Regions from separate parts of the Homo sapiens genome. Here region 2 is linked to region 1. The links come from fine-mapping of genetic effects on gene expression. A gene starts in region 1. The other region holds a variant in brackets. All regions are shown on one strand. Distances are between the middles of the regions. Region 1 holds the start of SLC16A14 (solute carrier family 16 member 14). Region 2 overlaps LOC107985995 (a long non-coding RNA gene).

Region 1 (12,042 bases):
TCTCTAATGCTGGTATTTGGTCTTGGCAATACATTGATATCTCCTGATCCTTTCTTGCAGAGGAGACAATGTAGGCCCAGCTGGGGACTGGCCTGGTGAACCAGGGTTACAGAATCTGCCTGGGCTGTAAGGCCCACTGGTGTTCAGGCAGATGTCTTTTCAGGTATTTAGGTCTTTATTTTCATTCAGTAATGCTTTGTAATTTTCAGAGTACAAGCTTGGCACTTCCTTTAAGCATATTCCCAATTTTTAAAATTCTTTTGGATGTTATTGTAAATGGAGTTGTTAGTGTATAGAAATATCATTAATTTGCATACACTGATCTTGTATGCTGCAACTTTGCTGAATGCACTTCTTAAGTCCTATTCTTGTTAGTGGATTCCTTATGTTTTCTGTATATAAATCATATATCTGAAAATAGAGGTAATTTTATTTTCTTCTTTCTATTCTGGATGCCCTTTATTTCTTTTTTTAATTTTTAATCTTTTATTTATTTATTGCCTAATTCCCCTGGTTAGAATCTCTAGTACTATATTGAATAGGAATGTCAAAAGTGGATATCCTTATCTTGTTCCTGATCTTTAGGGGAAAGCATTCAATCTTTCACCATCAAGTATGATGTTAGCTGTGAGTTTTTGTAGATGCCTTTTATCAGGTTGAGGAAGTACCCTTCAATTGCTAGTCTGTTGTGTGTTTTTTTTAGTCATGAAAGGGTGTTGTATTTTGTCAAATACTTATTCTGTATATATTAAGATGATCATGTTATTTTGATTTTTTCCTTTTTTAAAATGTTTATTTATTTATTTATTTATTTGTTTATTTTTGAGAAAGAGTCTCGCTCTATCGCCCAGGCTGGAGTGCAGTGGCATGATCTCAGTTCACTGCAACCTCCGCTTCCTGGGTTGAAGCGATTCTCCTGCCTCAGCCTCTTGAGTAGCTGGGACTACAGGCACGTGCAACCACACCCGCCCAGATACTTTTTGTATTTTTAGTACAGAAAAGGTTTCACCATGTTGGCCAGGCTGGCCTTGAACCCCTGACCTCAAGTGATCCACCTGCCTTGGCCTCCCAAAGTGATGGGATTATAGGCGTGAGCCACCGCACCGGGCTGTTTTTCATTTTGTTGTTTTGTTGTTGTTGTTGTTGTTGTTTTAGATCTTGCTCTTTTGCACAGGCTAGAGTGCAGTGGTGGGATCAAAGCTCACTGTAGCCCCAAGCAGTCCTCCCACCCCATCCTCCTGAGTCACTAGGACTATAGGCCCACACCTCATCCTTTATTCTATTGATACTATCTATCACATTAACTGATTTTCAAATACATACCAACCTTGCATTCCTGGGATAAGTCCCACTTGGTCATAGTGAGCTCATTATTTTTATTTATTTATTTATTTATTTTAAAGACAAGGTCTTGCTTGGTTACCAAGGCTGGAGTGCAGTGGCACCATCATAGTTCACTGTAACCTCAAACTCCTGCGCTTAAGCAATCCTCCCACCTCAGCCTCCTGAGTAGCTGGGACTACAGGTGCATGCCACCACACCCAGCTGTTATTTTTAATTTTTATTTTGTAGAGATGGGGCCTCACTATTGAGGTTGCCCAGGCAGATATTGAACTCCTGCCCTCAAGCAGTCACCCTGCCTTAGCCTCCCACAGTGCTGGGATTACAGGGGTGAGCCACTATGCCTGGCTAAGTTAATTGATTTTAATAATTAAATAAGTGTCCACGAAGCCAGCACAACAAGGCACATCTAATCATACCCATCCCTTCTCCCTGTCATCCCTGACCTAAGTCCCATGTTCATCTTTCCTTGCTTCTCTTTTTGGATAGTTGCACTGCACCTAGATGCATTCCAAAAATATTTGGTTTAAGTTTTGTAATTTTGCATAAAGAGTATTATGCTTTTTTCTGCTTAATATGTAATTTCTAAGATTCAAACATATGGTGTATTAATGGAGTTGATCCTTTTGATTGCTGTATAATATTCCATTGTATGACTACTATGTATGCCACATTAAAATAGTAATTATGTATCCCATGTAACTATGTATCCCATGTAACTATTAAAAGTAGTAACTATTAAAAGAGTAACTATGTATGCCATATTAAAATAGTAACAGGTCCAAATCTGAACTCCTAATATCTCCCCCAAACAAGCTCCTCCTGCAGTCTTCCCATCTTTGTTAATGTCAGCTCCATTCTTCCAATCACTTAGCCAAAACCTTGGAGTCATCCTTGACTCCTCTTTCTCTCACACATTCAATCTGAAAGCAAATCCTACAACTCTGCCTCCAAAGTATATTCAGATCCAATTTTGTTTTACAACCTTCATTGCCACTTCTATGGTCCCAGTAGCCATTGTCTCTCCCTTGGATTATTGTAGTCAGCCTCCCAAGTAGCGGGATTACAGGCATGCACGGCCACGCCCAGCTAACTTTTGTATTTTTAGTAGAGACAGGGTTTCATCATGTGGGCCAGGCTGGTCTCAAACTCCTGGCTTCAAGTGATCCACCTACCTCAGCCTCCCAAAGTACTGGGATTACAAGCGTGAGGCACCATGCCCAGCCCCCCCTGCTCAACTCTCCAGTGGCTTCCTGTCTCTGAATAAAAGCCAGTTTTTTTCCTGTGATTTTCAAGGCTTTAGGGTGACCTACAGACACTTCCCTCTGCCTTGTGGACTTTGTACCTGCTACTCTTCCTGCTAGGATGAGCTTCCTCCTGTCATTCTCATGGCTCATTCCAGCACTTCTTATTGATGCTTTCTCTCTCCCTTCTAAAGTTTCCCATCACAATAACCCTTCAATTTCCCTGTCCTTGCCTAATTTTTTTCTTAGTGCTTATTACTAATTGTATATATATGTATGTATATATATACATATATATAGAGAGAGAAATAAATACACATACACATATATGCATTACATATATATAACTTGTTTTTCTTGCTCACTGGAACATATACTTAGTGCAGAAAAGCATTTGTGTTGGTTTTGTTCATTGCTGTATCCCCAGCACTTCATAAAATCACATCATACACGTTCAGCAAATATTTGTTGAATGAAAAAATAAATGAATAGCTGAAAAGTAACTACTAGCACATATGGTTCATGGATAAAGCATAAAAATGAGGCCTTGCTGAAATCTGAAATTTATGAGGCACCCAGAAGCCATGACCAATGTCATCTCAGTGTGGTGGTTCTTATGAGACTCCAGGCTGCTGAAGGCTGCTATCAGCCCTGCAACCTCCTTCTGTCCCCATAAGCCATGCTGAAGTCCAAAATCCCTGGAGGCTGGTTTGGCAGCAGGCCAAGACTGAAGATACCTGCCAAGACCAGATGTAACCAAGGTCCCCACTTGGTAAAAGCATCTGCACTTACGGAAAGATAAATCCAGTCACAGGGAGAATCCTGGGGGGGCACAGACTGACCCACCAAGCCAAGAGGTGGCACGGATTTGGGCACAGCACTGGATTTCTGGCCCTGTGTAAGAGAAAGCATTTCCTTCCTCCTTCATAAAACTTTGCCTGGCTGTGCAGCGTGTGGCTTGCCCTGTGATTTCTGAGCACACTTGCATTTCAGGCACTTGTGTTCTGGATTCTAGTCTTTGATCTCCCACATTAAACTCAGAGGAGTGGGGAACAGGGCCATACTGAGAGACAGAGGATATTCTTGGTGACCATGTGGGTTGTGGGTCATCTTTACATCTGGGCTGGCTACAACAATGAGGCAGTCACGGTGACACTTTAAGGCATTTCTCTAACCCCTTCAATGTTCTGTGCTAGCAACTTTCTCAAAAGCTAATTCTATCCCACTCTGTGCCTATTCTACACCATTAAACCACCAAAATTAAGGCAAAGATTGTCCAAATTCTCAGTTTCACCCCAACTCCAAGGTGGGATTATGAAATCAATTGAGTACATGATTAGAACTAAGAGAGGAGGCTTTTACAGGCAGCATGTGAATTAGTTTACATTCTTAAGATGTAAGGTTGTTAGCTAATGCAATTCAATTAAAGGTAAGATTGCTATTGAGAGAAAATATATAATTTGCCTAAAAATCAAGGGAGAATGTCAGGTTTCTCTACTTCAGATACATGAAAAGAGTTTAGCGCTTATATTTTACATTCTAATTGAAGATGGATTTTTTTTTTTTTTGAGACAGAGTGTCGCTGTGTCACCCAGGCTGGAGTGCAATGGCGCTATCTTGTCTCACTTCAACCTCCGTCTCCTGGGTTCAAGCAATTCTCCTGCCTCAACCTCCTGAGTAGCTGGGATTACAGGCACCCACCACTACGCCCTGCTAATTTTTGTATTTTTAGTAGAAATGGGTTTTCACCGTGTTGGCCAGGCTGGTCTCAAGCTCCCGACCTCAGGCGATCCGCCCACCTCGGACTCCCAAAGTGCTGGGATTACAGGCATGAGCCACTGCGCCTGGCCTGATAGTGGATTTCTATTTATTTAACCCAGACATACCAACTTATGGGTCACAGTCCTCTTTGCTTTGGGCCTGTCCTCAATCCACCTGTGTCACTGAGAGACCAACAGACAGGTAAGAGCAGTGAAACTTATGAAGACAAAATAATTGATCAGAAAAGCCTTCATGGTCCAGAGTAGAAGCTTCTCAGAGAGCCAATTAAAGACTGCCTGGGTGTGTGGAGGTGGGACAAGGATTACAAAGCAGCACAAGGAAAATTTTGGAGTCATTTGATTGAGGTGGTAGTTCCATAGACGTGCTGTAACTCATCGAATTGTACACTAAATATGCATAGTTCATACGAGATCCATCCTACCTCCATATGCTGAAACTCATCAAATTGGACACTAAATATGCACAGTTCATATGAGATCCATCATACCTCCATAAGTGGGCAAGTTTTCAGAGAAAAAAAAAACAGACTTAAAAATCTTACAGACTTCTTTTCCAACAAAATGGATCATCGGCAATTGAAGTGCTTGTCAGGAACCCTAATCTTGCTGTCAAAAGCCTGCTTGAAATGAGTGGATATGAGAGGCACCGCCCAAGGGAACACTAACCATCCAGTTGCCCGTGTTCTTATCAGCAAAAGTAAGATATGTAAACCACTGAAGCCTAGCACCTCATCAAAATGCCCTCACTTGGCCACAATTTCTCACAATTTTCTCAAAATTTTTTTTTCTTTTTTTTTTTTGAGACAGAGTCTCACTCTGTTGCCTAGGCTGGAATGCAGAGGCACGATCTCAGCTCAAGGTTCAAGCGATTCTCGCCTCCCAGATTCAAGCAATATCGTGCCTCAGCCTCCCAAGCAGCTGGAATTACAGGCAGGCGCCACCACACCCAGCTAATTTTTGTGTTTTTAGTAGAGACGGGGTTTCACCATGTTGGCCAAGCTGGTCTTGAACTCCTAGCCTCAAGTGATCCACCCGCCTTGGCCTTCCAAAGTGCTGGGATTACAGGCGTGAGCCACTGTGCCCAGCCTCAATAATTTTTAAATCAAGAGTTGATATAAGATTAGCTGGGCATGGTGGCACGCTCCTATAACCCCAGCTACTTGGGATGCTGAGGCAGGAGAATTGCTTGAACCTGGGAAGCAGATGTTGTAGTGAGCCAAGATTGCCACTGCACTCTAGCCTGGGTGACAGAGTGAGATTCCATCTCAAAAAAAAAAAAAAAAAAAAAGAGAGACAGAATTGATATAAGAAATAGCAATATAGGCCGGGTGCAGCGGCTCATGCCTGTAATCCCAGCACTTTGGGAGGGTGAGGCAGCCAGATCACTTGAGTCCAAAAGGTCAAGACCAGTCTGGGCAATATAATGAGACTCCGTCTCTATAAAAAGTCAAAAAAATTAGCCAGGCATGGTGGCGTGTGCCTGTAGTCCCAGCTACTCAGGAGGCTGAGGTGGGAGGATCACCTGAGCCCAGGAGGTTGAGGCTGCAATGAGCTGTGATCATGCTACTGCACTCCAGCTTGGGTGACCGAGGAAGGCAATGTGAAATACATGTGAATTTTTTTTCAAAGAAACGAAAAAGAAGGAAGAAAAGAAAAAGGAAAAGAAGAAAGAAGGAAATCTGTGGTAGGCAGAATAATGGTCTCCCAAAGATGTCCACATCCTAATCCCTGGAACATGTGAATTTGTTACCTTACATGGCAAGAGGGGAATTAAGGTTGCAGATGGAATTAAGGTTGCTAATCAGCTGACCTTAAAATAGAGAGATTATCTGGATTATCTCATTGGACTCAATGTAATCCCCAGGGTCCTTAAAAGTGGACAGGGGTGGGGGCAGAAAAGGGGAGACAAGGCAATGTGAGTATGGAAAGAAGACAAAATGACGCAGCAGTGCTGGCTTTGAAGATGGAGGAAGAGCCACCAGCCAAGGAATGTGGGCGGCCTGCAGAAGCTGGTGGCTCTCCCCTACAGCCACGAGAAGGAACACAGCCTTCAAGGTGGCCAACACCATGATCTCAGCCTAGTATGACCCATTTCAAACTTCCGACCTCCAGAACTGTAAAATAGTGAATTTGTGTGGTTTTCCTCTGCTATTACTGTGGCAGTTTATCACAACAGCAGCAGAGAATTACTGCAAAACCTTCAGGCGGGAAAAAACAGCACAGGCTTCATCGACTCACACATTCACTTCAATAATACAGAAAACTGTCCAAGGCAAAGCACTATGTTGTGTGCCCTGCTGGGAATGAGGTAGGGAGGTATTGAGATGAAAGTTGTGCCTGGTGCCCACGAAGGTAGGTAATGGACGTGCAGAAAGAGCAGGGAGAGGTGGGACCCAGGGTGGAAACAAGAATGAGGGACTGGCCGGTCACGGTGGCTCAGCTTGTGATCCCAGCACTTTGGAGGCCAAGGCCAGAGGATTCCTTGAGTCCAAGTGTTCGAGACCAGCCTGGCAATATAGTGAAACCCGTGTCTCTAAAAGAGAGAGAATAAGGGACTTTGAGTCCTCTTTGGCCAAAAATATTTCAGTGAGGGTCTGTTTCATCCCTTCTCTCCCATCTCAGAGAAATGGAGGCTACTGCTAGTCTCACTTGCATCCTGGATTAGATTTCAGGACCTTTCCGCCAGTGATAAATGTGCAGCGCCTTAGCGGAACCTCAGCCAAAGCTATAAACTTCAACCGGCCACAAGAGTGTGCATGTGAGGTGACTGCATTTTTTTTCCCTGCCAAACCAGAATTAGCCGGTATAGGAATGAACGAGCATGAAGATTTGAAATTGCTCCGATTGGAAGGAAGCCCAGGTTAGGTTTGGGCACCTCCAAACGCACCCGTTTTAAAGCCACCTGGACTGAGGCGTCGAGCTTTCAGCTCCACCAAACGCTCACCTGGCCTGGCAGCGAGCGGCGGAAGAGCCCGGGAGCCCCTCACAGAGCGCACCGAGCCGGGCGGAGAGCTGAGCCGCAGGCACCCGCGTCTCCAGGATGATAGGCGACATTGCAACAAATCTCTACACCCAGCAGCTCAGGGGGCTCCAAGCAGAGCAGCAAGTTCGAGGATCCGGGCGTGGAGCCGAGTGAGGCCGCAGCCCAGCGGGCCTCGGGCGGTGAGTATCCGAGGCCGCGCGCGCCGCGGGCCTGGGGAATGGAGCGACGCCGGGGGCATCGGAGCCTAGGTTTCAGATGGCCGCTGCACCCCCAGGGACCCCCGGGAAGGGGCAGCCCCAGCCCAAGGCAGGCTCGGGAAAGGCTGCCCGGGCGGTGGAGGGCGAGACTGTGCCGGGGCAGGTGGTAGTGCCAAGGCCGCCGCGGGGGCTTGGGAGCTGCGGGCGGGCAGGGTAACCGGCGGTTCAGGGCAGACCGCCAGGCGGAGCTTGGGGACGCGCGCCTTGCTGCTCAAGCTGGCCGGGGCCCCGCGAGCGTCATCCTGGGCACCCCCGTCCGGCTGGAGAAGCGCGTTCTGCCCGGAGCCCAGCCTCGCTGCCCGGCTGCTCTCTAGGCCCGTTTGGGACTCGAACTGGACAGTGATGAGGCGCAGAGCGGGGGACCCGGGGCTGCGCCTAGGGACTTCGCGGGGTGCGGATGCCTCTCTGCACAGGCTGTGGTGCTGCAGCCGGCCCAGCTTCCCCGGTGGGCTGCTGGCTTCCGAACGCGCCGAGGGATGCGGGGTGCCCGAAGTGGGGATGTGGTCTCGGGGTGCCAAGGGAGCGGGAGCACCGAGCGCGGGTGGGGGCGGGCGCTCGAAGGGTGGGGCGCGAGGCCGGACCCCGCGGGCACGATCCCGCACCCAGGGCGCGCAGAGGCTGGGCCCCCTTAGCGCTTCCGATTGAGGCTCCTCAAGAGAGGCTGAAATGGGGTGAGAGACCGGGGACGGCCATTTCGGGGCTAAACGCTGCCAAGGCCATGACGATGTTTTAGGAGCTGAACTCTGCTTTCCAATTAAGCCATTTTCTTTCTGAGGAAAAGTTGATTCGGGCTCATTAACAAGGATGACTGAGGGCCATTATTGGGGCTTAGAGAGATTCTCCTTTGCCTTGTCTGGCTTCTTTGTTTGCATGTGCGTGCGTGTGCGGCTGTGTGTGTGTGTGTGAGAGAGAGAGAGAGAGAGAGAGAGAGAGAGAGAGAGAAGAGAGGGGAGAGAGGCAGTGTTGGGGGTGGGAGGAGGTAAAACAGGCTTGGGATCCTGCAGGCCTGGGTTCCGATTTGGTTTCCACAGCCTGCTAGTTTAACCTTTCTAAGCTTCATTGCTCCCATTTGATGGCTCAGATTCTTCCTCTGTAAAATGCGGACATTCATGCCAATTGGACTGGAGGAGAAGCCACCAAGCACAGTCCCTGACCCAGAGCGAAGCATGTATGTGTTGAGTCCTCCTAATTCGGTGTGAATTTTTCGGTTCTGTTTTTCTCCTATGCTGTCTGCACCAGCTCAGCTCAGCTCCGCTCCCCAGCCTTCTCCGCGGCAGCCTCTTCAGCCTGCTGGCCGCAAGTGCGCCCTCTAAAGGCCCCAAATGCCCTGTACACACCAGGTGAAGAGCGCGGAAGCGCCTGCAGAGCAGAATTAAAGGTGAAGCCCGCACTCACCTGCGTGGGATGCAGAGCCGCTACCACCACGCTCTGCGTAGCTTTGGGGAAGACTGTAATTTCAATTTTAGCTTCGTGCTTCCCGCTTTCCTTATGTGTAATGAGCTCACCACATGCAATGTAATAACAATAGCCAAATTAAAAATGAATGACTTGGCCCAGCGCGGTGGCTCATGCCTGTAATCCCAGCATTTTGGGAGGCCGAGGCGGGTGGATCATCTGAGGTCAGAGTTTCGAGACCAGCCTGGCTAACATGGCGAAACCCCTTCTCTACTAAAGATACTAAAGATGCAGTGGCACACACCTGTAGTCCCAGCTACTCGGGAGGCTGAGGCAGGAGAATCGCTTGAACTCGGGAGGCGGAAGTTGCAGTGAGCCGAGATCTCACCAGTGCACTCCAGCCTGGGCGACAAAGCCATACTCTGTCAAAAAAAAAAAAAAAATGACTTGCTTGTAAAACTTTCTACGCTGCTGTAGAAAATTTAATTTTGTTCTAATATCTGAAACACCCTAGAAGGATCTGTTATTTTCATTTCTGCCTATTATCACGTAAATATGTAGCTGACCCAGTTTCATAGCCTATATATGTTACCCCCCATTTACAATTTCTTTTTCATCGTCTATGAACTCATTTGGGGAGAATGGAAGGCTGACTATTGCTCCCGTAATCTTCCCATTTTCTTATTTCACCCTCTTCATAACGAAGCCCTAATATTTTTTGTCAAGCTTCCAATAGCAAGCTTGCTTAGAGTGGGTTACCTTTTACTTTTTTTTTTTCTTGAGGTAGTCTCGTTCTATCATCCAGGCTAGAGTGCAGTGGCACCATCTCAGCTCACTGCAACCTCCATCTCCCAGGTTCAAGCAATTCTGCTGCCTCAGCCTCCTGCATAGCTGTGAGTATAGGTGCGCACCACCACACTGGCTAATTTTTGTATTTTTAGCAGAGAAGGGATTTCACCATGTTGGCCAGGCTGGTCTCAGACTCCCGACCTCAAGTGATCCATCCCCCTCAGCCTCCCAAAGTGCTGGGATTACAGGCATGAGCCACCGTGTTCTGCCACATTTTACATATTAATCCTTAGCAGAAGCCCCACATTCACTGCCTCAGGGTGCCACATGCATATCGTCATTTTACATGTATGTCAGGATGTAGAAAATGTAAGGGAGCTTGAAGGCCCTATGGTGGTCAAAGACATGGAGCCTAGGGGTACAGATACACCCTCTAAGTTCTCCCTCTCCAGGTGTGGAGTAGGATTATAATACTAAAATTATTCTTATATCTTATATAAATACATATATAATTATACATGTATATAATTATATGAATGCTACAAGCAATCTTGGAGTTGGAGGGATAAACATTTGTTTTTCTGTTGTCTTTTGTTTTCATTAACTAGTTGGTCTAGAAGTTAACCATGAGTAGTCAAAACAGTAATTACTTTTGGAGAGATTTAAGTGTGAAATACAACTGACTCCATTGCTCAGCAGATCTATAGGGGCCTCCTGAGGATCCAAAAGAACTTTTTGGGCCAGGCATGCTGGCTCACGCCTGTAATCCCAGCACTTTGAGAGGCCAAGGCAGGTGGATCACTTGAGGTTAGGAGTTCCAGACCCGCCTGACCAACATGGTGAAACTCCATCTCTACAAAAATACAAAAATTATCTGGCATGGTGGTGCACACCTGAAGTCCCAGCTACTCAGGAGGCTGAGACAGGAGAATCGCTTAAACCTGGAAGGTAGAGGTTGCAATGAGCCGAGATCATGCCACTGCACTCCAGCCTGGACAACAGAGTAAGACTCCATCTCAAAAAAAAAAAGAACTTTTTTACTATATTCTACATGCACCCTTGTGCCTCATGAATAAAATTTGTCCATTAAATGCTATTCAGTGTCACTTATTTATGAACAAACTGGAAATATCAAGAGCAGTTTGTTGGCACCTACATCTCTTCACCCATAAATAATTCAGTAAGAATATAAAGTTCTTATCATTGATTTAGAAAAGTGCTTAATATTTCAACACACGGGCTGAAAAACTATAACTTTTTCCTGTTGTTGTTTGTTTGTTTTGAGATGGAGTTTCACTCTTGTTGCCCAGGCTGGAGTGCAATGGTGCGATCTCGGCTCACTGCAACCTCTGCTTCCCAGGTGCAAGAGATTCTCCTGCTTCAGCCTCCCGAGTAGCTGGGATTACAGGCATGCGCCACCACACCCGGCTAATTTTGTAGTTTTAGTAGAGACAGGGTTTCTCCATGTTGGTCAGGCTGGTCTCACACTCCCGACCTCAGGTGATCCGCCTACCTCGGCCTCCCAAAGTGCTGGGATTACAGGCATAAGCCACCACGCCCGGCCTAAAAAACTCTAACTTTTAAATTTGTATTACTTCAAAGCCTTCCTTGGTTGTAAATGAACTTCAGGAAAATGCCATGTATTGTTGTTTCATCACATTAAACATAGCTGAGCATTTTCCCATGGACAGCAAAATGACATTTTTATGAGCTATTCACACCTTGTGTCAAGCTGCCTGGTTCTCCTGTTTCTGGCTCCTCAGGATTCTGCACACAACAGAGGCAGAGGGAAGACACTCACCAACCATCCCTTCTGAACCCTCTCTGGGCTCATCCACTGGCCCTTTGACAATGCAGCTCTGCACTGCGCTGTAAGCTTTGGAGAGCAAGGGCTGCCCCATCCCTTTCTAGCCCCAAGCAGGCTCAGACATTGGGAAGGGGACAGATACATGCATACACAGACACACACACACACACATACACACACACACACACACACACACAGACAAGGCTGAAACCCAAGACATACTGGAAGACTTCCCAATAGAGGTCATCTTGTTTTGTTTTCTCTTTTACAAGTCAGCCACTAATTTACCTGGAGGTAAGAGGCTGATCCAGACAATATTTTAAAGGTAGCTTTTATTTTCTTATAATACAGGTAATATATATCTATTGAGGAACTTTTTTTTTTTTTTTGAGACAGGGTCTCACTTTGTCTCCCAGGCTGGAGTGCAGTGGCATGATCACAACTC
Region 2 (12,042 bases), 31 kb before region 1:
GCTGAGGAATTTCATCACCACCAAACCTGTCCTACAAGAAAGGCTAAAGGAAGTTCTTCAATCAGAAAAGGATGTTAATGAGCGAAAAGAAATCATCTGAAGGAACAAAACTCACTGGTAATAGTAAGGACATAGAAAAACACAGACTATTATAACATTGTAGTTGTGGTGTGTAAACTACTCTTATCTTAAGTAGAAAGACTAAATGATGACCCAATCAAGAATAATAATTACAGTAACTTTTCAAGACATAGACAGTAAAATAAGACATAAAGAGAAACAACAAAAAGTTAAAAAGCAGGAAAATGAAATTAAATTGTAGAGTTTGTATTAGTTTTCTTTTTGTGTGTTTGTTTGGTTGGTTTTTTTATGTAATCAGTGTTAAGTTGCCATCTGTTTAAAATAGTGGGTTATAAAATAGTATTTGCAAGCCTCATGGTAACTTTAAAAGAAAAAGTATACAAACAGTGGATGCGCAAAAAACAAAAAGCAAGAAACTAAATCATACTACCAGAGAAAATCACCTTCACTAAAAAGAAGACATGAAGGAAGGAAAGAAGAAAAAGGAGACCACAAAACAATCAGAAAACAAATCACAAAATGGCAGGAGTAAGCCCCTAGTTGTCAATAATAACATTGAATGTAAATGGACTAAACTCTCTAATCAAAAGACATAAGTGGGTGGATGGATTTAAAAAACAAGACCCATTGATCTGTTGCCTACAAGAAACACATTTCACCTATAAAGATACACATAGACTGAAAATAAAGGTATGTAAAAAGATATTCCATGCCAATGGAAACCAAAAAAGAGCAGGGGCAGCTATATCTATATCAGACAAAATAGATTTCAAGACAAAAACTGTAAGAAGAGACAAAAAAAGGTCATTTGTAATGATAAAGGGGTCAGTCTAGCTACAGGATATAACAATTGTAAATATATGCACCCAACACTGAGGCACTCAGACATATAAAGCAAATATTTACATATTGCTTTATATAAAGCAAATATTTACATATTGCTTTATATAAAGCAAATATTTACATATTGCTTTATATAAAGCAAATATTTACATATTGCTTTATATAAAGCAAATATATGAACAGAACTCTGTATGCTCTCTTTAGCATATAGAGCTAAAGAGAGAGACAGATCTTAATATAATAATAGCTGGAGACTTCAACACCCCACTTTCAGCTTTGGACAGATCTTTCACACAGAAACTCAACAAAGAAACATTGGATGTCATCTGCACTGTAGACCAAATGGACCTAATAGATATTTACAGAACATTTTATCCAACAGCTGCAGAATACACATTCTTCTCTTTAGTACATGGATCATTCTCAAGGATAGAACAGATGTTAGGGCACAAAACAAGTCTTAAAACATTCAAAAAATGGGAATAATATCAAGTATCTTATCTTGATACAGAATTTCTCATAAAACGAGAAGTGAACAACAACAGGAATTTTTGAAACTATATAAACACATGGAAAGTAAGCAATATGTTCCTGAATGACCAGTGAGTCAATGAAATTAACAAGAAAATTGAAAAATTTTCTAAATGAAGGACAATGGCAGCACAACATACCAAAACCTATGGGCTACAATGAAAGCAGTACTAAGAGGGAAATGTATAGCTATAAGCGCCTATGTGACACTTAATATTGAGTGTCAACTTGACTGGATTGAAGGATGCAAAGTATTGTTCCTAGGTGTGTCTGTGAAGATGTTGCCAAAGGAGATTAACATTTGAGTCAGTGGACTAGGAGAGGCAGACCCACCCTCAATCTGGGTGGTCACCGTGTAATCAGCTGCCAGAGTGGCTAGAATAAACCAGGCAGAAGAGTGTGGAAAAGACTTGACTTGCTGAGTCTTCAAGCCTTCATCTTTTCCCCATGCTGGATGCTTCCTGTCCTCAAATATCAGACTCCAAGTTCTTCGGCTTTTGGACTCTTGGACTAACATCAGTGGTTTGCCAGGGTCTCTCAGGCCTTTGGCCACAGACTGAAGGCTGAACTGTTGGCTTCCCTACTTTTGAGGTTTTGGGACTTGGACGGGCTTCCCTGCTCCTCAGCTTGTAGATGGCCTATTATGGGACTTCATCTGTGATCATGTGAGTCAGTACTCCTAATAATACTCCTTTCACCTTCATGGGGAAAGGATTCCTTATTTAATAAATGGTGTTGGGGAAACTGGCTAGCCATATGCAGAAAACTGAAACTGGACCCCTTCCTTACACCTCATCCAAAAATTAACTCAAGATGGATTAAAGACTTAAATGTAAGACCTAAAACCATAAAAACCCTAGAAGAAAATCTAGGCAATACTATTCAGGACATAGGCATGGGCAAAGACTTCATGACTAAAACACCAAAAGCAATGGCAACAAAAGCCAAAATAGACAAATGGGATCTAATTAAACTAAAAAGCTTCTGCACAGCAAAAGAAACTATCATCAGAGTGAACAGGCAACCTAGAGAAAGGGGGGAAATTTTTGCAATCTATCCATCTGACAAACGGTTAATATCCAAAATCTACAAGGAACTTAAACAAATTTACAAGAAAAAAACAAACAACCCCATCAAAAAGTGGGTGAAGGATATGAACAGACACTTCTCAAAAGAAGACATTTATGCAGCCAACAAGCATATGAAAAAAAGCTCATCATCACTGGTCATTAGAGAAATGCAAATCAAAACCACAATGAGATATCATCTCACGCCAGTTAGAAGGGTGATCATTAAAAAGTCAGGGAACAATAGATGCTGGAGAGGATGTGGAGAAATAGGAACACTTTTACACTGTTGTTGGGAGTGTAAATTAGTTCAACCATTGTGGAAGACAGTGTGGCAATTTCTCAAGGATCTAGAACCAGAAATACCATTTGATCCAGCAGTCCCATTATTAGGTACATAGCCAAAGGATTATAAATCATTCTACTATAAAGACACATGCACATGTATGTTTATTGAAGCACTATTCACAATAGCAAAGACTTGGTACCAACCCAAATGTCCATCAATGATATACTGGATAAAGAAAATGTGGCACATATACACCATGGAATACTATGCAGCCACAAAAAAGAGTGAGTTCATGTCCTCTGCAGGGACATGGATGCAGCTGGAAGCCATCATTCTCAGCAAACTAACACAGGAATAGAAAACTGAACATCACATGTTCTCACTCATAAGTGGGAGTTGAACAATGAAAACACATGGACACAGGGAGGGGACCATCACACACCAGGGCCTGTCAGGGGGTGGAGGGTAAGGGGAGAGATAACATTAGGAGAAATACCTAATGTAGATGACGGGTTGATGGGTACAGCAAACCACCATGGCACCTGTATACCTAGGTAACAAACCTGCATGTTCTGCACGTGTATCCCAGAACTTAAAGTATAATAATAAAAAAAATCAACTTAGGCTCCTCAGAAATGAGGTGTTAAGTAGAGAATTTAAAAAAAAAAAAGAACAAAATTAGAGGAATCACATTACCTGACTTCAAATTATGCTACAGAGCTATAGTAACCAGAACAGCATGATACTGTCATAAAAATAGACACATAGACAAATGGAACAGAATAGAGAACCCAGAAACAAATCCACATGCCTATAGTGAACTCATTTTTGACAAAGGCACCAAGAACATACACTGGAGAAAAAACAGTCTCTTCAATAAATGGTGCTGGGAAAAATGGATATCCATATGCAGAAGAATAAAACTAGACCCCTACCTCTCACCATATACAAAAACCAAATCAAAATGGATTAAGAACTTAAATCTAAGACCTCAAACTACAAAATTACTGCAAGAAAACTTTGGGAAAAATCTCTAGGATATTGGCCTTGGAAAAATTTTTTGAACAATACCTCACAAGCACAGGCAACCAAAGCAAAAACAGACAGATGGGTTCACATCAAGTTTAAAAACTTCTGCAAAGCAAATAAAACAATCAACAAAGTGAAAAGACAGCCCACAAAACGAGGGAAAATATTTGCAAAGTGAAAAGACAAACCTACAAAATGGGAGAAAATATCTGGATAAATAACCAGAATATATAAAGAACTCAAACAACTCTATTGGAAAAAATCTAATAACCTGATTCGAAAATGGGTGAAATATTTGAATAGACATTTCTCAAAAGAAGACATACACATGACAATCAGTGCTCAACATCACTGATCATCAGAGAAAAGCAAATCAAAACTACAATGAGAATCATCTCACCCCAATTAAAATGGCTTATATCCTGGTATCAAAACAGACACATAGACCAATGAAACAAAATAGAGATCTCAGAAATAACCATCTGATCTTCAACAAACCTGACAAAAACAAGCAATGGCAAAAGGTCCTCCATTTAATAAATGGTGCTGGGAAAACTGGCTAGCCATATGCAAAAAACTGAAACTGGACCCCTTCCTTACACCTTATACAAAAATTAACTCAAGATGGACTAAAGACTTAAATGTAAAACCCAAAACCATAAAAACCCAAGAAAAAAATCTAGGCATTACTACTCAGTGAATAGGCATGGGCAAAGATTTTATGATGAAATCACCAAAAGCAATTGCAACAAAAGCTAAAATTGACAAATAGGATCTAATTAAACTAAAGAGCTTCTACACAGCGAAAGAAACTATCATCAGAGCAAACAGACAACCTACAGAATGGGAGAACATTTTTACAATCTACCCATCTGACAATGGTCTAATATCCAGAATGTACAAGGAACTTAAAAAAATTTACAAGAAAAAAACAAGCCCATCAAAAAATGGGCAAAGGACATGAACAGACACTTCTCAAAAGAAAACATTCATGTGGCCAACAAACATGAAGAAAAACTGGACATCACTGATCATTAGAGTAATGCAAATAAAAACCACAATGAGATGCCATCTCATGCCAGTCAGAATGGCGATTATTAAAAAGTCAAGAAACAACAGATACTGACAATGCTGTGGAGAAATAGAAATGCCCTTTTTATTGTTGGTGAGATTGTAAGTTAGTTCAACCACTGTGGAAGACAGTGTGGCGATTCCTCAAGGATCTAGAACCAGAAATACCATTTGACCCAGCAATCTCATTACTGGGTATATACCAAAAAGAATATAAATCATTCTATTATAAAGATACATGCACACATATGTTTACTGCAGCACTATTCACAATAGCAAAGACTTGGAACCAACCCAAATGCCCATCAATGATAGACTGGATAAAGAAAATGTGGTACATATACACCATGGAAGATTATGCAGCCATAAAAAGGAATGAGATCATGTCCTTTGCAGGGATATGGATGAAGCTGGAAGCCATCATTCTCAGCAAACTAAGACAGGAACAGAAAACAAAACACCACATGTTCTCACTTATAAGTGGGAGTTGAACAATGAGAACACATGGACACAGGGAGGAGAACAACTCACACTGGGGCATGTCAAGGGGCCAGGGGAAGGAAGAGCATCAGGACTAACAGCTAATGTATGCGGGGCTTAACACCTAGGTGATGGGTTGATAGGTGCAGCAAACCACCATGGCACACATTTACCTATGTAACAAACCTGCATGTTCAGCACACATATCCTGGAACCTAAAATTACATTAACTTTTTTTTAAAAAAGGCTTATATCCAAGACAGGCAATAACAAATTCTGGAAAGGATATGGAGAAAAGGAAACCCTCATACGCTGTTGGTGGGAACGTAAATTAGTACAACCACTAT[G/A]AAGAACAATTTGGAGGTTCCTCAAAAAACTGAAAATATAGCTATCATATGATCCAGCAATTCCACTGCTGGGTATATACCCAAAAGAAAGGAAATCAGTACATTGATTTTCTCATACACTGTTGGTGGGAATGTAAATTAGTACAACCACTATGAAGAACAATTTAGAGGTTCCTCAAAAAACTGAAAATATAGCTACCATATGATCCAGCAATTCCACTGCTGGGTATATAACCAAAAGAAAGGAAATCAGTATACTGAAGAGGTATCTGCACTCCCATGTTTGTTGCAGTACTGTCCACAATAGCCAAGATTTGGAAGCAACCTAAGTGTCCATCAACAGATGAATGGATAAAGAAAATGTGGTACTTACACACAGTGGAATACTACTCGGCCATAAAAAAGAATAAGATTCTGTCAGTTGCAACAACATGGATGGAACTTCAGGTCACTATGTTAAGTGAAATAAGCTGGGCAAGGAAAGACAAACATCGCATATTCTCACTTATTTGTGGGATCTAAAAATCCAAAAAAATTGAACTCATGGTAACAGACAGTAGAAGGGTGGTTACCAGAGGCGGGGAAGGGGAGTGGGGAGTGGTGGGGAAGTGGAGATGGTTAATGGTCACCAAAAAAAATAGTTAGAAAGCATGAATAATACCTAATATTTGATAGCATAACATGGTGACTATAGTCAAAATAATTTAATGGTACATTTTAAAATAACTAAAAGAGTATACTTGGGTTGTTTGTAGCACAAAAAATAAATGCTTGAAGAATTGGATAATCCCATTTTCCATGATGTGATTATTAACATTGGATGCTTGTATCAAAATATGTCATGTCCCCCATAAATATATACACCCATGTACCCACAAAAATCAAAAATAAAAATTTGATTTTAAAAAAAGAATAAATCTTGACCTGTACCTTGAATCATATACAAAATTCAACTTAAATGGATCATAGACCTAAATGTAAAACCAACAACTAAACAACTTCTAGAAGGAAAGAGTCCTGGTGTGGTGGTGGCTCATGATTGTAATCCCAGCACTTTGGGAGGCCAAGGCAGGCAGATCACCTGAAGTCAGGAGTTCGAGACCAGCCTAGCCAACATATAGTGAAACCCCACTGCTACTAAAAAATACAAAAATTAGCTGGGTGTGGTGGTGCATACCTGTAGTCCCAGCTACTTGGGAAGCTGAGGCAGGAGAATGGCTTGAACCTGGGAGGCAGAGGTTGCAGTGAGCTGAGATCGCACCACTGCACTCCTGCCTGGGTGACAGAGCAAGACTCTGTCTCTCAAAAAAAAAAAAAAAAAGAAAGAAAGAAAGAAAAAAGAAAAGTCTTTGCAACCTTAGGTTAGGCAAATGTTGCTTATATAGCAAACGAAAAGCTCAAACCACAGAGTAAAAAAAGTATATTTTCTTTCAAAATTTAAAACTTCAGCTTTTTGAACTCTTACAACTTAACAATAAAAAGAGCTGGGCGTGATGGCACACACCTGTAGTCCCAGCTACTCTGGAAGCTTAGGCAGAAGATTCACTTAAAGACAAGAGTTTGAGGCTGCACTGAGCTAAAATTGTGAAACCGCTCTCCAGCCTGGGCAATGCAGCAAGACTTCATCTCTTAAAAAAATATATAATATAAAGAACCCAGCTTTGTAAAAGGACAAAGGATTTGAATAGACATTTCTCCGAGGAAAACATACATATGCTTTTGGCTAAGAAGACATGAAAAGATGTCCATAATCACTAGCACTAGGGAAATGCAAATTAAAACCACAACGAGATACCACTTCACATCCACTAGGATAGGCAGTATGAAAAGGACAGAGAATAAATAGTACTGGAAGTTCCTCAGAAAGTTAAGCAAAGAATTACTATGTGACCCAGCAACTCGATTCCAACGTATATAGTCAAAAGAAATAAAAACATATATCCACATAAAAACTTGCACATAAGCCCAGCGCATGGCTCACACCTGGAATCCCAGCACTTTGGGAGGCTGAGGTGGACAGATCACTTGAGGTCAGGAGTTTGAGGCCAGCCTGGCCAACATGGTGAAACCCCATCTCTACTAAAAATACAAAAATTAGCCAGGCATGGTGGCACATGCCTGTAATACCAGCTACTCAGGAGGCTGAGGCAGGAGAATCACTTGAACCCAGGAGGCAGAGGTTGCTGTGAGCCGAAATCACACCACTGCATTCCAGCCTGGGCAACAGAGCAAGGCTCGGTCTCAAAAACAAATAAACCCACAAGCTTGTTCACAAATGTTCATAGCAGCATTATGTATAATAGCCATGATCTAAATGTTCAAATGAATAATGAATAAACAAAATGTAATATATCCATGCAATAGAATATTACTGAGCTATAAAAAGGAATAAAGTTCTGATACCTGCTACAATTGGATGAACATTGAACACATTATAACAGAAACCAGAAACAAAGGCCACGTATTATATGATTTTATTTACATGAGATGTCCAGAACAGGCAAATCTATAGAAATACAAGGAAAATTAGTGGTTGCCAGGATCTAGGGAGAGGGGAGAGTAGGCAGTGACTGCTCATAGGTATGATGTTTCTTTTTGGAGTGACAAAAATGTTCTGGAATTAGATAATGGTGATTGCATTGCTTTGTGTATAGATAAAAACAACTAAATAGTACACTTTGAAAGGATGAATTTTATGTTCTGTGAATTATATCTCCTTTTTTTTTTTTAAAAAAAAGCAGATCTTCTAAATTGTCTGGTCTTTGAAATACATTAAGAAAAATGAAAAGATAAGCCAGAGAGTGGGAGGAAATGTTTTCAAATCATAGATCTGATCAAAGAAAGGTAACCAGAATATAAGTAAACTCTCAAAACTCAATGATCAGAAAACAATCCAATTTTCAAAAGCATAGAAAATTTGAACATTTTACCAAAAAAAGTTTAGAAAAAATGCTATCAGCACAGGAAAAAACACTCAACATCATTAAGAAAATATAAATTAAACTACAATAAGAGACCACTCACTACACACCTATTAGAATGTTTAAAACTGTGAGGGAAAATGGCAATATCAAATGTTAGCCAAAATGTGAATCAGCTGGAATGTTCATAGACTTCTGGTGGCAATGTAATATGGCATAACTAGTTTGGAAAACAGTTTGACAGCTTCTTAGAAAGTTAAACATACACTTACCACAGATGACCCGGACATTGCATTCCTAGGTATTGACACAAGAGAAATGAAAATATATGTCCACACGCAAACCTGTACACAAATGTTTACAACAGCATTATTCACTAAAAGTCAAAAACCAGAAACAAGCCAAATATCCATTAATCCATGAATGGATAAACAAATCTTTGTGATATAGTCATACAATGGAATACTACTCAGTAGTAAGAAGGAACAGTTATGCTATAGTAATCCACACAAACACATGCAACGTAGGTAAATCTCAAAGGCATTATACCAACTGTAAGAAGCCAGACACAAAAGAATATCAAGTGTATAATTTCATTTACCTGACATTCTGGAAAAACAAAACTCTAGACAGAACTCATATGAGTGGTTGCCAGGTGTTAGTAGTGACGGCAATTGTTGGGTACAAAAGGGCACAAGGGAACTCTTTTGGTTGGATGGAAATTGTTCTACATCTTCAATGTGGTGGTGGTTACACAACTGTAAACATTCGTCAAATTTCAGAGAACTATGTGCTTCTAAAGGTGATTCTTACCACTCCTATTCATCATAGTACTGAAAGTCCTTGCCAGGGCAATCAGCCATGAGAAAAAAATAAAAAGCATCCAAATATGAAAAGAAGAATTCAAACTATCTTTCTTTGCAGATGATAGGATTCTATTCATTGAAAAGCCTAAAGACTCTGCCAAAAAGCTCCTGGAACTGATAAATGACTTCAGTAAAGTTTCAGGATATAAAAATCAATGTACAAAAATCAGTAGCATTTCTTTACAGCAATAACATTTAAACGTTATTAGCTGGAGCTAAGAGCCAAATCAAGAATGCAATCCCGGCTGCGCGCGGTGGCTCATGCCTGTAATCCCAGCACTTTGCGAGGCTGAGGAGGGCAGACCACCTGAAGTCAGGAGTTTGAAACAAGCCTGTCTCTACTAAAAATATGAAAATTAGCTGGTGTGGTGGTGCGTGCCCGTAATTCCAACTACTCAGGAGGCCAAGGCATGGGAATCACTTGAACCCTAGAGGAGGAGTTGCAATGAGCAGAGATCATGCCACTGTACTTCAGTCTGGGTGACAGAGTAAGACTGTCCAAAAAAAAAGCAATCCCATTACAATAGCCACACAAAAAAATAGAATACCCAGGAATACATCTAACCAAGGAAGTGAAAGGTCTTTACAAGGAGAACTACAAAACACTGCTAAAAGAAATCACAGATGAGACAAACAAATGGAAAATATTCCGTGCTCATGGATTGCAAGAATCAGTATCATTAAAATGGCCTTATTATTGCCCAAAGCAATCTACAGATTCAATGCTATTTCTATCAAACTACCAAGGTTATTTTTCACAGAATTAGAAAAAACTATTCTAAAATTCATATGGAACCAAAAAAATAGCCTATATAACCAAAGCAATTCTAAGCAAAATGTACAAAGCCAGAAGCATCACATTAATCCACTTCAAACTATACTATAAGGCTACAGTAACCAAAACAACATGGTACTGGTACAAAAATAAACAGATAGGCCAATGGAACAGAAAAGAGAACTCAGAAATAAAGCCACACACCTACAGCCATCTAATCTTTGACAAAATCAACAAAAATAAGCAATGGGAAAAGAAGTCCCTATTCAATAAATGGTGGTGGGATACAGGCTAGCCATATGCAGAAGAATGAAGTTGGACCCCTACCTTTCACCATTTATAATAACTAACTCAAGATGGATTAAAGATTTAAATGTAAGACTTCAAACTATCAGAATCCTAGAAGAATATTTACGAAGCACCATTCTGGACATGGGCCTTAGGAAAGAATTTATTACTAAGATCTCAAAAGCAATTGCAAAAAAAAAAACACCAAAAATTGACAAGTGGTATCTAATTAAACTAAAAAGCTTCTGCACACCAAAAGAAATAGTCAACTGAGTAAACAGACAACCTACAGACTGGGAGAAAATATTTGCAAACTATGCATCCAACAAAGGTCTCATATCCCGAATCTATAGGAACTTAAACAATTGAACTAGCAAAAAACAAATAATTCCATTAAAAAATGGGCACAAGACATGAACAGACACTTCTCAAAAAATGGCATACAAGTGGACAACAAACACATAGAAAAATGCCGATCATCACTAATCATTGGAGAAATGCAAATCGAAACCACGATGAAATGCCATCTGACACCTGTCAGAATGGCTATTATTACAAAGTCAAAAAACAACAAATATCGTTGAGGCCGCAGAGAAAAGGGAATGCTTCTACATTGCTAAAGGGAATGTAAATTAGTTCAGCCACTGTGGAAAGCAGTTTGGAGACTTCTCAGAGAACCAAAAGTAGAGCTACCATTCGACCCAAGCAATCTCATTACTGGGTATGTATCCAAAACAAAACAAATCATTCTACCAAAAAGACACATGCACTTTGCAATTCGTGCAGCACTATTCACAATAGCAAAGTTATGGAATCAACCTAGGTGCCCATCAACAGTGTACTGGATAAAGAAAATGTGGCACATATACACCATGGAATACTATACAGCCATAAAAAATGAAATCATGTCCTTTGCAGCAACATGAATACAGCTGAGTACCTGGGTGACAGGATAATTCATACCCGAACCTCAGCAACATGCAATATACCCAGGTAGCAAACCTGCGCATGTACCCCCCCGGATCTAAAATAAAGGTTGGAAAAGGGAAAAAAAAGGTGATTTTTTTCCCGTATGTAAATTATATCTCAACAAATTTGATTCTTAAAAAATGAACTAGGTTATTCTAATACATCTCCTCCCACAAAAGAAAACACTAAAATTTATTTTTAAAAATTTTGTATAGATACTCCATGGTGGAATTGTTAGATCAAATGGTAATCCTACTTTCAGTTCTTTAAGGAACCTCTAAACTGTTTCCATGGTGGTTGTACTAGTTTACATTCCCCCTAGCAGTGTAAAAGTGTTCCCTTTTTACCACATCCATGCCAGCATCTATTATTTTTTGATTTTTTAATTATGGCCATTCTTGCAGGGTAAGATGGTATCTCATTATAGTTTTAATTTGCATTTCTCTGATAGCTAGTGATGTTGAGCTTTTTTTTATACGTTTGTT

Evidence for each region. PIP is the estimated chance that this variant, and not a neighbour inherited with it, causes the effect.
Region 2: its variant is the best candidate, but not a certain one, in a credible set for the expression of SLC16A14 in nasal epithelium (TOPMed, PIP 0.73).

What each region holds. Positions count from the first base shown.
Region 1 is chr2:230,064,041-230,076,082 of GRCh38, reverse strand. It overlaps SLC16A14 (solute carrier family 16 member 14), which reads left to right and starts at 7,159. Exons shown (of 5, transcript NM_152527.5): 1 at 7,159-7,528. LOC107985995 (a long non-coding RNA gene) reads right to left here and starts at 9,344. Exons shown (of 6, transcript XR_001739918.2): 1 at 9,306-9,344. RefSeq lists enhancers at 7,096-7,155, 7,166-7,285, 7,681-8,451 and silencers at 7,516-7,785, 8,056-8,305.
Region 2 is chr2:230,094,949-230,106,990 of GRCh38, reverse strand. All of the region lies in intron 2 of LOC107985995 (a long non-coding RNA gene), which reads right to left. Among named protein-coding and RNA genes, the nearest start is that of SLC16A14, 32 kb to the right of the region's middle. The variant G/A (reference allele first, on the strand shown) is at 5,739.